Homo sapiens: one gene and its partners. The protein of the gene in region 1 interacts with the protein of each later gene in a biochemical or structural test. Each region holds a gene or a part of one and is shown in the gene's direction. Other genes may lie near its edges.

Region 1 (4,141 bases):
AATGTGGCACATATATACCATGGAATACTATGCAGCCATAAAAAATGATGAGTTCACATCCTTTGTAGGGACATGGATGAAGCTGGAAACCATCATTCTCAGCAACCTATCGCAAGGACAAAAAACCAAACACCACATGTTCTCACTCATAGGTGGGAATTGAACAATGAGAACACATGGACACAGGAAGGGGAACATCACACACCAGGGACTGTTGTTAGGTGGGGGTAGGGGGGAGGGATAGCATTAGGAGATATACCTAATGCTAAATGATGAGTTAATGGGTGCAGCACACCAATATGGCACATGTATACATATGTAACAAACCTGCACGTTGTGTACATGTACCCTAAAACTTGAAGTATAATTTAAAAAAAAGAAAAAGAAACATTATGTTAAATGAATTAAGCCAGATATACAAAGTCAAGTATTTTATGATTCAATGTATAAATCAAATGTCCACAATAGGCAAATCCTTAGAATCAGAAAGTAAATTAGCGGTTGCTAAGTGGGATGTGTGAATAAAAATGGAGAGTTACTGCTAATGGGTATGGTTTCCTATGTGGTGATTAAAATGCTCTGTAACGATATAGTAGTGATGATTGCACAACTCTTTGAATGATCAAAACACATTCAATTGTATACTTTAAAAGGGTAAATTGTATGGTAAATGAATTATACTTCAAGGAGGTTTAAATTTTAATAGAAATTTTAGTCCTAATCAAGGTGACATTTTCTCCCATATTTTGCCTCCAATTCTTCCACAGCACATAGTGCATCTCACATAATATTTATAATGTTGGAGTGCAATTGTTTATGTACTCTCTCTTACTTACTCAACTATAAGATCCTTGAACTTGTCACACACGTTACTTTAGGAACTAGCATGGAAAAGGTCTTCACAAATACTATCTGAAAAATCAATAAGCCAGTAAAAGTAAACCTCCATATGAGCTTACTCCTCTGCTTTTCATCACCATCTATTCTGTCCACATTTCAAGCAATGTATTTCCAGCATGAATTTGTGGTGTGATTTGACATGAAGGAGAACATCAGTCACCAAAATGAAAGGATTGTACCACAGTACCCTTATTTTAGTTTAACTTCGACTTTTTTAGATTAACTCTTAATCAAAAATTGGTACTTAACAAGGAAAAACTTGCCTTCTGTTGTTTTCAGAGAAGTAAAAAAAGCACCTCACCTTTGAGTCGCCAAAATTATGCTTCCTGGAATGACCGCATACCATGTAGCAGGTTTATTTTAGTTTGTTTACAGAAAAGTGTAGACCAAAGTCCAGTGCTGACTTTGGGAGCTACTAAAGACATGAAAAAGTAGAATTTTAAACACATTTCATTGTAAACGACTGGGAGTATCTGAGCAAATTATTTCTTACGTGACTTTAGAGAAAACGGCTACCTATCTGACCCCAAAACGACTTGAGGAAACTGTTTCCACGGTCCTGCTGCAGAGGGGAAGCACAGTCGTCAAGAAGAGAGTGGGGTCAGGATCAAAACACATTTAGTGTGACTTAGGGAAAGAAAACATTTTCCCTCTTTGAACCTCTCTGGATACAGTCATTTTGCCTCTACTTGAGGATCAACTGTTCAACCTCAATGGCCTTTCAGGACCTCCTGGGTCACGCTGGTGACCTGTGGAGATTCCAGATCCTTCAGACTGTTTTTCTCTCAATCTTTGCTGTTGCTACATACCTTCATTTTATGCTGGAGAACTTCACTGCATTCATACCTGGCCATCGCTGCTGGGTCCACATCCTGGACAATGACACTGTCTCTGACAATGACACTGGGGCCCTCAGCCAAGATGCACTCTTGAGAATCTCCATCCCACTGGACTCAAACATGAGGCCAGAGAAGTGTCGTCGCTTTGTTCATCCTCAGTGGCAGCTCCTTCACCTGAATGGGACCTTCCCCAACACAAGTGACGCAGACATGGAGCCCTGTGTGGATGGCTGGGTGTATGACAGAATCTCCTTCTCATCCACCATCGTGACTGAGGTAAGAGGCTCTGTTCTCGTCTCATGAGTATGTGACCTGGGTGTTTAGAATAACACAAGTAATAATCATGCTTCCAGCCTTCAGTCACATGTAGGTCCTTAGTCTTCATTCTTTCAGCAAATACTAATTGCTTCTTTATTAAATGTCTGACACCTACACATTTTGAGTAATGAATTCCAAAGTAGAAGGCATCCTGCTATTATAATGCTTTAAGTCACAGGGAGACCAAAGTTTAAACAAGCATTTATATATAATATGTTAAAATGTTCTGCTAGGTCAGTGATGCTCAGCCTGTCATTGCAAATTAGAAATATCTGGGAAATTGAGAAAAGCCTCCATGCCCAGAGTATACCCTAAAACAATCATATGAGAAGGTCTAAGAGGGAAATTTAGGTTTCTAAAAGTTTTTAAAGGTCTTCAAGTGATTGCACCATGTGGTCATGTTTGAGAACCATTTAGTATGAAATAAAAACCTATAGGTTTAGGAAAGTCTTCCAAGAGAAAGTTATGTTTAAGTTGAGACCTGAATAACAAAGGTCAGGTAATGCTGAGAAAGGAAGCCACAGAGGAAGTTAGAGACTTAATATTAGGAAACTTGCAGATCATGCTAAGAAGTTTTGATCAAGTTACACTGAGGGGTAATAAGCATTGATGTGCTGGCTTCCTTCTCTTCCAGTGGGATCTGGTATGTGACTCTCAATCACTGACTTCAGTGGCTAAATTTGTATTCATGGCTGGAATGATGGTGGGAGGCATCCTAGGCGGTCATTTATCAGACAGGTGAGTGTGTATGGAACACAGCTCTCTTTAAGGGCATTTTTTATCAACTTATGAAACATTATTTCATCTAGAATTACTTACTGCAAATTACATTCTCCTGAGGCTGCCCTGATCCCCAAACAGAAAAGGAAATTTTTAGTCCGTGTTTTGAGTGCTATTTTTAAAATTTGAGCTCTGTATGCAGGACACAGAAATGATATCTCCATGTGAACTGGGGGTGTTTCAAGACAGGTTTTAGAGAGAAGGTACCACAACATGTGGTTTAGAAATATGAGAAAGAGTTAACTAAGGGAATAGAAAGGAAGACGTTTCATCACATAGGATTCAGCCTTGGCCAGGAGTACCAGGTCCAGTCCTACCTGGACACTGTGAGCTGATAGCTTGTGCCCAGAGAATTGTCATTACATCATAGTTCCAAGTGTGATGAACACGCATTCCTCTAAAACCTGTAGGGTATATTTGAAGGTATCATTGGTGGTGTGTTGAAAAATTATGTGTAGAAACTTGATTATTGTCTTTGCAAAAACAGCTTTTTAGAACCATGTGAGGTAAGTAATCCAAGGATAATACTATCTCAGTCTGTGGTGTGAGAAGTTTGGGGTATTCACCTTGCTGTATGTCTCCTGACATGGCAGGGAACAATTACCTTCACCCAACCATGTCTCCCCTGATGGCGATGAGGGACTTGAAGTGCCACTTGCCATCCACCAACATCATGTCTTCTGGTGTCTCACCTGAAAATTTGAACCTTGAATGTACGACAGGAAATGGAATGTAGAATGAGCTAAGAGTCAGAGGGTTAATTTCCAATAGTTAGTCACCCAGTCCTCTGTGATACTGTCCTGGGAAAATGCAGATAGACCAATTTTAATAGATCACAGGGTGGTAAAAGAAGGGGTAGGAGATGCCAGGCAGGAGATGACAGTGGAGAATCAGCTAAAGACGAAGGGACAAGATAACCTAAGGATTTTGGTATTTCTCACAAACCTAAGAGGAAATATTATGTGATTATATGCAGAGTAGGCTATGATCAAACTGATTGTTTTGGAATAACTCACTCAACTGTTTATGATATCTTAAAATCGGAAATAATCTATAATTTCATTAATAATAGGTTAATAAATAAGCAGATATTCACATAATGAATTTTTACAGCAAAGGGAATGAATAAAGTACTGTCTGCAATAAGGTGAATTAACATCAAAACCATTTGGTTAGGTACCACAAGACCAACAAAAAGATTACATACTATAGTGTTCCACCAATGTAAAAGTCAAAAACAAGGAACTACATTATGATGTGAGAAAAGGGAGAAATCTAATTTCCTTTAGATTTCTATTGGAATT
Region 2 (3,500 bases), on another chromosome or scaffold:
TAAACCAATGAGACATGGGAACTGGCACACTTTTTCTCGAAAGCTCCAAATAGTAAATATTTTAGGCCTTGTGAGCCAGAGGGTCTCTGTCGAAGCTAGCAACTCTGTCCTTGCGGGGTGGAGGCGGCTGCAGTTGGGAGTGAGTATGGCCACCTTCGGCACAGTGGATGGCACAGGACTGGACCCTCAGTGGGAGTGTCCAGACCCCAAAATTAGAGAATTCAACCAATGGAAAAAATGGTGAAAGGGTACAAACACACGGAATATGAGCAGGTCAGTCAGCATGCTTCGTTTGTAATTAAATCCATGTGAAGTAATACAACAGGGACATAGCGTTTTCCACCTGTCAGACTGGCAAACATCAAAAAGTTTGATAGGCCAGGCGTGGCACCTCTCACCTGTGATCCCAACACTTTGGGAAGCCCAGGTGGAAGGATCACTTCAGCCTAGGAGTTCGAGACCAGCCTGGGCAACATAGTGAGATCCCACCTCTACAAAAAAACTTTAAAAAATTAGCCAGGCATGGTGACACACACCTGTAGTAGTCCCAGCTCCTCCAGAGGCTGAGATGGGAGGATCACTTGAGCCCAGGAGTTTGAGGCTGCAGTGAGCTAGGATTGCACTACTGTACTCCAGCCTGGGCAGTAGAACAAGACCCCATCTCTAAAAATAAAATAAAAAAGAAAGGTAAAACTGATTGCCCATCAGTAATAATAATAATAATAATTTTTAAAAATTAAGGTATAACACACACACAGTACAGTCTTAAGCGTACAAACAGCTTGACGGGCCTTCACATGCCCTTCTGGAGCCAATCACCCAGATCAAGATTTGGGTCCTTTCTAGGTTCTGGGGAAGTGCCATATCCCCTCCCAGTCGTTACCCCTCCCCTGTCCCCTAAGGGAGGACCCTTCCAACCTCTATCACCATCCCTGTCCTTGAACTTGACGTGGACGGAGTCACATTCAATGTTTCTTTTTCATTGCTACACAGTATTTCATGGCATAAATTTACCGCAATAGGGGCAGGCGCTGTGTCTCATGCCTGTAATCCCAGCACTTTGGGAGGCCAAGGCAGGCAGATTGCTTTGAGCTCAGGAGTTCAAGACCAGCCTGGGCAACAGGATGTAACCGTCTCTACAAAAATTCAAAAATTAGCCAAGCATTGGTGGCTTGCGCCTATAATCCCAGCTACTCGGGAGGCTGAGGCTGGAGAATTGCTTGAGCCCAAGAAAGCAGAGGTTGCAGTGAGCCAAGATCGCACCACTGCACTCCAGCCTGGGTGACAGAGTGAGACCTGTCTCAAAAAAAAAAAAAAAAAAATTACCACAATTTACTTATCCACCTGACCGTTGATAAATGTTTCTGTTGCTTGCAGTTTGGGGCTGTTATGATGAAACCACTGTGAACATTCTTATACGTGTCTTGGTGGTGATGGCCCTTTAAAAAAAAAAATCTGGAAGCAGCCTGGGCACAGTGGCTCATGTCTATCATCCCAGCACTTTGGGAGGCTGAGGCAGGAGGATGGCTTGAGCCTAGTTGTTTGAGACCAGCCTGGGCAACATAGTAAGACCCCATCTCTACAAAAAATGTAAAAGTTAGCTGGTGTAGTGGTCATGCCTGTGGGCCTAGCTCCTCAGGAGGCTGAGGTGGGAGGATCACTTGAGCTCAGGAGGTAGAGGCTGCAGTGAGCTGTGATTGCACCACTGCACTCCAGCCTGGGCGACAGAAGGAGACCTTGTCTCTGAAATTTAAAAAATCCAAGGAGGGCTGGGCGCGGTGGCTCACGCCTGTAATCCCACCACTTTGGGAGGCCGAGGCAGGCGGATCAAGAGGTCAGGAGATCGAGACCATCCTGGCTAACACGGTGAAACCCTCTCTCTACTAAAAATACAAAAAAATTAGCCAGGCGTGGTGGTGGGCACCTGTAGTCCCAGCTACTCGGGAGGCTGAGGCAGGAGAGTGGCGTGAACCCGGGAGGCGGAGGCTGCAGTGAGCCGAGATCGCGCCGCTGCACTCCAGCCTGGGTGACAGAGTGAGACTCCATCTCAAAAAAAAAAAAAAAAAAAAAAAAAAATCCAAGGGCAAGCAGAGGCCCTGTGCCGGCGTTTTCTGCGGTTTAGTAAATTGCTATGTCAGTGGATAAATGCTGCTGTGAAGTAAAACTGTAACGTTATTGACATTAGTGCTTCGTTGCCTGCCTCTGCGTAAGGATTATGTGATTCGTGGAAATCTTCTAAGAAGAAATGGCCTATTTTTAAAGGGATTCAGGTATCGTTGGTTCCGGGGGAAACGTTCAGCAGAATAATAACGATACCTCACACCGCCTTCCAAGACTCCTGACTTCAATTCTCAGACGCGTTTCAAGAAGCAGCTTGATACCCTGCGGAGAGCCTCTGCGAGCTGACATGGGGGTCCCTGTTTGCCAGTGAACAGGCACCGTGATCCCCGTTTGAGTCCCTGAGGCACGCAGAGGCTCTTGGCTCTTCGTAGGAGAGTTCTCGATCTTTGAAAAATGTTTCTCCTCCTTCTTAAAGGACGGCCTTTTACCGGGCCCTGTTCCGAGTGTTCTGAGCCCGGGGAGGTCTTAGACTGGCGAAGAGCATGACCTAGTGGGGAAAGGACCCAGCTCCGGTACAAGCAGAAGGCCGTCTGTGCGCCGGGGACGGGTCACCGTGTCTCCTCACTCATTTTATGTGGAAGTTTGCTGTAATTTTGTCTTGCTCTGTTGCCCAGGCTGGAGTGCAATGGTGCCATCATAGCTCACTGCAGCCTCAGCCTCCTGGGTTCAAGCAATCCTGTCACCTCAGCCTCCCAAGTAGCTGCGACTACAGGCATGTGACACCATGACCGGCTAATTTTTTTATTTTTTGTAGAGATGAGGGTCTTGCTATGTTGCCCAGGCTGGTCTCGAACTCCTAGACTCAAACTATCCTCCAGCCTCAGCCTCCCAAAGTTCTGGGATTACAGATGTGAGCCACCGTGCCCAGCCCTGTATCTTTCTTAAGTAATTTGTACATATATACATATTATTTTTAAAAAATTATATATGTAATTATATGTATAATTATATATTTATATATAATTGTATATAATATGTATAATTATATTTGTATAATATCTATTTATATAATTTATATATATAATTTAGTAATTATATATATACAGTTCTATTTTCTTTGACACAGAGTCTCACTCTTGTTGCCCAGGCTGGAGTGCAGTAGTGTGATCTCAACTCGCTGCAACCTCCACCTCGCGGGTTCAGGCAATTCTCCTGCCTCAGCCTGCTGAGTAGCTGGAATAACAGGTGTGTGCCACCATGCCCAGCTAATTTTGTATTTTTAGTAGAGATAGGGTTTCACCATGTTGGCCAGGCTGGTCTCGAACCCCTGACCTCAGGGGATCCGCCCGCCTCAGCCTCCCAAAGTGCTAGGATGACAGGCATGAGCCACCGTGCCCAGCTGTAATTTTAAAATATATTTTAAAGATCAACCTTATGTC
Region 3 (3,500 bases), on another chromosome or scaffold:
TCTTAATAGCCTCATGTTAGGTATTATATTAAATGGCTTTCTTAAATGGCTTTGCTTAAAAGCAACATTTGTTATAAAATAGCAAGATTTTTGCAGGTTAAACAGACTTTAAATACTAGAAATTAAGAATTTGAAGAGGTTATCTGTAGAACTTTTGAGTTTGATTAAAAACAAATATTATTTTCAGAAGAGACAAAGATTCTTTATTGTGATTCATTTTGGAAAGGATGAAAATAGAGTAAGGGAATTTAAAAAGAAACTTGCCATAAACATTGTTTTATTTTTTGCTTTTATCTAAACTTTGTGACAGAAATTGATTTTTCAATTTAATAAGGTATTGTAAAGTGTACTTAGCACTCTCTTGTCTTGACTAGTTGCTTTTTATTAAACCATATTCATAACATGACATTTAGAGACTAGCACAGTGAAAGAGTAAAATTTAACCATTTTTGTAAGATGTAATACTAATCGGAAATGTTCTCATATTGTCTTCTGACAAAGTCCATGGCAGAAGGATGAGCTGGGTTGTAGAACATGGCTTTTGTAGCACTGATTCTTCCTAGCCTTCTTTTCACTTAGGTGCTAAGGGTCGCCCTCCCAAAGCCAGTACTATCAGCCAGGTGACTTAACATCTTTCTGGCAGCTACTGTCTTTAGCTTTGATTTTTTTTCCCTTTTTTTGTTGTTATAATCTTTAATAGAGAATTGAAAGTTACTCTTTAAAATATGGTTTCTAATCTGAAGCTTTTCCTGAATCAATTAGGTAGTTTCTTATTGTTTTAGTGTAGTACTTAGTAGTCAGTACTTTGCCCGCTTATAGAAGAATCTTTGGTTTCACCTATTGCTTGGCTCGATTAGTTACTTGTTTCTTAATTATGACCCTGTTGTTTATTTTTCTGCAAAGAGAAAAGTTGTCATTTGAGTTTGAACTTTGTCTTTTCCCAGTAGTAAAGTTGAACTTTGGACCTCTGGTGAAATTGTTTTGTGATATACTACTATGACTAGGTTTAGTTTCTTTGATTTTACTACAGAGTATATATTCTTAAACCATTTCTATTCTGATTAATATACAAGTAGTGAATTTTGTTCTGAAATTCCCCAGACTCTAATTGTGCAGAGTTTTATGCTTCTTCATACACCTTTAAGCTCATATTTCAGCAGTTTGCTTTCAGTAAGTTTCAGTAAATTATGTGTATTTTATTCCAGAGATTAAGTATCGGTACAATAAATACATGAAATCATTGTCTACTGCCATATGCACACATTACATTCAACTACCCTAAGCAAGTAGTGTATCCAGGGATGGAAATCATAGGAAACAATGTTATAGTTTGTTTAAATAAAAACCAAGTTGAAACAGTTCCTGGGTAATGTTAAAGGTAGGTAAAAGTCTTCACTGCTGACTCTTTGGGACATCCAATTTGTAAGGGAGTTTTGTTAAAATGGGCTAATTCCTAGAAATACACTTCCTGTTGGTGAAGAAACACTACTGGATGCTTTAAAATAGGAAATATTTATGTTATTCAAATAAAAATAATGCTGTGCCTTTCTTATCTCTTGAATCTTTTTGTTAGTTTTTTTTTTTTTTTTTTTTTTTTTTTTTAGTGGGATATTTAGGATTTTTGATGAGTTTTGTTTAGGTGGTTGTATTATATGAGGATGGGAAAGGTAAGAGAATTTAGAGTTAATTGTTAGCCTCCCAGGCTTACAATACATTTCTTCGTACCTTTTTTAAAACAAGAAAATCTAGAGACCTAGAGATTATTTTAGAAACAATAGAAAAAGAAGCAAGCCAAGCCCCTTTGCTAGGGAAAGTAGCATTACATTTTGATAAACCTTGAAGTTGAAAATTTCCTATTTCAAATTTTGGTAGTTTTTTTTTCTTTTTTCCCTAAAGCTCTTAATAACTCAGGGGTTCAGGTTTTGGATTCTGTTCATTGACACCTTCAATTCATATGAGTAATGGGCTTACACCTTAGCAATTGCAAGCTGATTTGCTTGCATGATATTTGATGACTTTTATTATATCATTAACATCTTTGTACTTAAAAAATATTTTCTCTCCATCATTCTCTAAGAGTACTATATCCAAATATCTCAGTATGTATATATGTATATACGTGTGTGTATATATATATTATATGCATATATGTATATGTATATACACACACACATACTTTTGTTAACTTTTCTTGTATATCATTTTCTAGTATATCATTTTGGGTACTTTATTGATCCTGCCCTCACCCCCAGACTTTTATAATTTAGTTTGTAAAACTTTATTTTCCTAGGTTGAGGCATTTTAATAATTCTTTAATTTCTTGCTATCTTACTGGTACAAACAAATACTTAACATTTGGCCATTTGATTTTTAGATGATTTTAAATTTTATTCAGTTTATTGCTAAAACTGATTTTCATGTAACATAACTCTGTGTTCCTGGGACGTATACATTATTTTTCCTCTGAGATCCTGGCACATACTTTATAAAACCTTTTGTTTTGAGAGACAAATTTTTGTGATTTTTTTTCTGCTAATTTATGTAAACTGGCGACAAAACAAATCTTCTAAATTCATTCAAGTGTCTGACTTATGAAGTCAGTGCCTAATCTTCTCAAGTGATAGTTTCATACAGAGTCTTTACTATGTAACCCCTAAGTGCTTTGTAATTTTTGGGGGGACTTAGTGTTTTGGGAGTATGTTGAAAGAGAATCTTGTTTTTATGGATTACTTCAGTATTATTTACCAATTTCAAAATCTGTGAATGTCAGGGTTGTGTGTGTGTGTGTGTGTGTGTGTGTGTGTGATTTGACAAAAGATAAGTGTTTTGGTATTGAAGACTAGAACCGTTTCGCCTTTAATAAATTATTTTTTGTCTTCTGAAATTTTGAGCAATAATTTTCTTGAAATACTACATTTTGGTAGATAGAGTGAATGCCCTGAATTTAAAACTATTGTCTAAAGTAAGAGTTTCAGAAACTTAGAAGCTGGTGTTATGAGACATGTTTGTAGGGAAAGAGGCAAATCCATTCATTGCTCTTCTAGCTAATTTTGCTAACAAAATATCTTGCTAATATTTTGTTTTTGAAGAACAACTATTATTCAGAATGTTTTCCAAGAAAAGATGCATATTTTATTTAATACAGAAAAAATAAGAAGTCCTATTACTGGCACGCATTCATTCCCTCAGCAAATACTTAGTGGTGCACCCACCAAGTGCCAGCATGGAGCTAGCACTGGCGATATAAACATGAGTCAGAAATTGTGTGTCTTCAAGAAGCTGGCAGTTTAGTGGGAGCTTAATGACTCATTGGTAAGGAATACCTGTAGTAAGGGTTTTGCCTTTTTCACTTTTCTGCCAGTGTTTAAAACTCTTTAGGTAGGTCTTAGTATGAATTTTGGTGAAAATGAGACTAACTGGCTGCATAGTGTGCTATTCGAAAAAGTAGTGGAGCTGCATTTTAGAAAGGATTTGGGTTCTCAAGTCATCACAAAAAGAGG
Region 4 (3,500 bases), on another chromosome or scaffold:
GCTCACTGAAACCTCCACCTCCTGCGTTCAAGTGATTCTCTTGCCTCAGCCTCCCAAGTAGCTGGGATTATAGGCGTCTGCCACCACGCCCAGCAAATTTTTGTGTTTTTAGTACACAAGGTTTCACCATGTTGTTCAGGCTGGTCTCGAGCTCCTGACCTCAAGTGATCCGCCTACCTTGGCCTCCCAAAGTGGTGGGATTACTGGCGTGAGCCACAGCGCCCGGGCTGATCGCTTTTGATAATTTACTTTTTCCAGGAGTTTTGCTATTAAAAATGTGGTAAATACCCTTGCACACACATCTTTGTCCCCCTTTGCCAGTTTTTCTTTCAGAGTGACACTCAGAAGTAAAAATTGTACACTCTTAGGACAACTTAGCAGTGTCAGTATACATTGTGTAAATTTTTATTTCCACCTATTTTTTCATGACATTTGGAGTATAAACTATTATTAATCTCTAATAAATCAATAAATGTCAGTTGAGATTTGGCAGTAAAAAAATGTCATCTTATTGTTTTAGTTTGCATTCTTCGATTTAGAGAGGTTGATGTGTTAATGACCAGCAGGCCGCTCTTGTCAATCCTGTTGGGCTGTATGCTGCTATATGAGAGTACAGTGCTGTCATGACTGCCCTTTTGTTATTCACAGTTACCTGTCACTGGGTAGTTGTAAGAGTTGTACAGTTGAGATGCTGAGCACATCAGAAGTGTTTTTTTGATGCTCTATTCAGCACTTCTTTTGGTATTCCCATTGAATCCAGTGAACATTTGGATGGAATACTTAGACCTTTTATCAATGTCAATGGCATCCGTTATTGGTTTTCAATATGTTTTTTTGCTTAATGATCTTGAATTAGAAGATAAAGATGTCATTCAGCCACCATATCCAGGTTGATGTAAGAAAATTTTGATTGTATAATACTTGTATTTCTTTGATGGTTCATTACAAGTGTGTATCACTAGTAAAAATGATCACTGAAAATGTCTCATTTTGGTCATAGCAAAGGGTTTTGCTAGCCTTTTGAGTTTTTAATTACGTTACATTTTAGATTAATTTCATCAAATCACTGGAATTAAGAAAACATTATCCATAGAGAATGCCACTTTGAGTGGTTTCTTTTTTCTTTTCTTTTTCTTTTTCTTTTTTTTTTTTTTTGAGACAGAGTCTGGCTTTATTGCCTAGGCTGGAGTGCAGTGGCATGAGCTCAGCTCACTGCAACCTCCACCTCCCAGGTTCAAGCAATTCTCCTGCCTCAGCCTCCCGAGTAGCTGGAATTATGGGTGAGTGCCACCACGCCTAATTTTTGTATTTTTATTAGAGACGGGGTTTCTCTGTGTTGGCCAGGCTGGTCTCGAATTCCTGACCTCAGGTGATCCACCCACCTCGATCTCTCCAAGTGTGGGATTACAGGTGTGAGCCGTGGCGCCCAGCCTGGGTGGTTTCTTTCAAGCTGTAGATGACTAGTAAGAGTCTGAGATCATTTGTACAGCTTGGGAATTTTTCTTTTATTTTTTGTTGAGATGGGGTCTCCCTTTGTCACCCAGGCTGGAGTGCAGTGGCATGATCATGGCTCACTGTAACCTCAACCTCCTGGGCTCAAGCGATCCTCTCACCTCAGTCTCCAGTGTAGCTGGGATTACAGGTACAAGCCACCACACCAGCTAATTTTTTTGTTTTTGTAGAGATGAGGTTTCACTTTGTTGCACAGGCTGGTCTCAAACTCCTGGATTCAAGTGATCCTTCTGCCTTGGCCTCCTAAAGTACTGGGATCACAGTGAGCCACTGCTCCTGGCCTGGTTCAATAAATTTTGATAAGTATATACATCTGTGTAAACCATACCCCCTTCAAGACACAATGTGTCCATCACTCCAAAAAAGCTTCCTTGAACCCCTTCCCAGTGTAGGGGAGGGAAAATAGCCTCTACCCTTCTAAGTTTTCGGTTGGGGCCCCTGTAATAAAGGGTAGATTAACAAGAGAAAAACATGTAAACTTGTTTAATATAAGTTTTATGTGACATGGGAGCCTTCATAAGGAAAGGAAGACCCGAAGAAACAGTAAAACCTGAGTGTTTTTAAATTAGGTTTGATGAAGAAGGAAGAGTTGTGGAATGTGATAGGACAGAAAGGGATATGAGCCAAGAGTAGTAAACAGGGAAAAACTTAACAAGGCCTGTTTGTTCATATTCCTCTGGGTGTTCCTCTATTTTTTTTTTTTTTAATTTTTGAGACAGGGTCTCACTCTGTTCCCCAGGCTGGAGTGCAGTGGCATGATCATAGCTCACTGCAGCCTCAACCTCTTGGGCTCAAGTGATCCTCCTGCCTCAGCCTCCTGAGCAGCTGGGACTATGGGTATGTGCCACCATGGGTGGCTGATTTTTGAATTTTTTTTGTAGAGATGGAATCTCACTGTGTTGCCCAGGCTGGCCTCAAACTCTGGGGCAGAAGTGATCCTCCTGCCTCGGCCTCCCAAAGTGCTGGGATTATAGGCATGAGTCAATGCGCCCGGCCACTCTGTCTTTTGAGATTAAGATGCTGCTATCTTCTGGGTATAGAGAGGACACCTCTCACATGAGGATCCTATGATCTGCTTCAGGGGAAGTCTTTTTTGCACCTGCTGTTTCTCAGATTCCTTCAACTTAAAATATTCAACAATGCCAAGGTGTCATATTTTGGGAGTAGCATGTTCTGAAGCCTGTCATAGTCAGTTCCCTATGACCCTGCCCCAGGTAAATTAATCTATAATTGTAGATTAGTTTTGTCAGTACTTGAACTTCATATGAATGTAATCATACAGTATGGTTTGTGCCTTTTTTGGGTCAGGTTTCTTTTTTTCCACATATCATTTTTGAGATTTATCCTTGTTGTGTGTATCAGTAATTTTTCCTTTTTATTTCTGAATATTATATACCATTTGTTTATTCATCTGTTACTAGACACTTGGGTTTTTCTAGTTTTGGGGTTTTTGTAAATAAAAATGCTGTAAACTTTCATGTGCAGGCGTTTTTGTGAGCATATATTTTCATGAATACTGAGTAAGTATTTGTGAGTGGAAGTGCTGGGTCATATAGTAAGTGTATTTTTAACTTTATAAGAAACTACCAATTTTCCGAAGTGGTTGTGATATTTTACGTTTCTCTTAGCAATGTACAATAATAGTTCCAGGCACTTCACAGCCTCGTTGAAACTTAGTGTTGTCTGTTTTTAAATTTTAGTTACCTTAGTGGGTGTGTAGTGGCACCTCATTGTGGTTATAATTTTGAATTTCACTGAGTGGAGCCTTGATAAAGAATGTTCTTGAGGTTTTCCTTAATTTTTCTACAGGATTGTAGCCATATACAATTGAAATTCATCTTTTATATTGTTAAATTTTTTCTTTAGGTGTCTTTAAGAGTGATTGAAGAGAATAATTCAAAATGCCTGAAAATCCTGCTACAGGTATACTGGATATATTGTTCTATAATTAAATTAATTATTTAAAAATGGAATCTCAAATGGGACTT

The links.
Region 2: the proteins of SLC22A9 (region 1) and CARD11 interact in a test that uses a peptide from one of them, tested with the Homo sapiens proteins (one large-scale study listed by IntAct).
Region 3: the proteins of SLC22A9 (region 1) and MAGI3 interact in a test that uses a peptide from one of them, tested with the Homo sapiens proteins (one large-scale study listed by IntAct).
Region 4: the proteins of SLC22A9 (region 1) and PATJ interact in a test that uses a peptide from one of them, tested with the Homo sapiens proteins (one large-scale study listed by IntAct).

The regions. Positions count from the first base shown.
Region 1 is NC_000011.10:63,368,444-63,372,584, forward strand, and holds the start of SLC22A9 (organic anion transporter 7), read left to right. Parts: upstream 1-1,341; 5' UTR 1,342-1,613; coding exon 1,614-2,015; intron 2,016-2,691; coding exon 2,692-2,795; intron 2,796-4,141. UniProt on the Homo sapiens protein: Sodium-independent organic anion transporter, exhibits high specificity for sulfated conjugates of xenobiotics and steroid hormones such as estrone 3-sulfate (E1S) and dehydroepiandrosterone sulfate (DHEAS).
Region 2 is NC_000007.14:3,033,868-3,037,367, reverse strand, and holds part of CARD11 (caspase recruitment domain-containing protein 11), read left to right. Parts: intron 1-3,500. UniProt on the Homo sapiens protein: Adapter protein that plays a key role in adaptive immune response by transducing the activation of NF-kappa-B downstream of T-cell receptor (TCR) and B-cell receptor (BCR) engagement.
Region 3 is NC_000001.11:113,393,515-113,397,014, forward strand, and holds part of MAGI3 (membrane-associated guanylate kinase, WW and PDZ domain-containing protein 3), read left to right. Parts: intron 1-3,500.
Region 4 is NC_000001.11:61,759,480-61,762,979, forward strand, and holds part of PATJ (inaD-like protein), read left to right. Parts: intron 1-3,378; 5' UTR 3,379-3,413; coding exon 3,414-3,435; intron 3,436-3,500.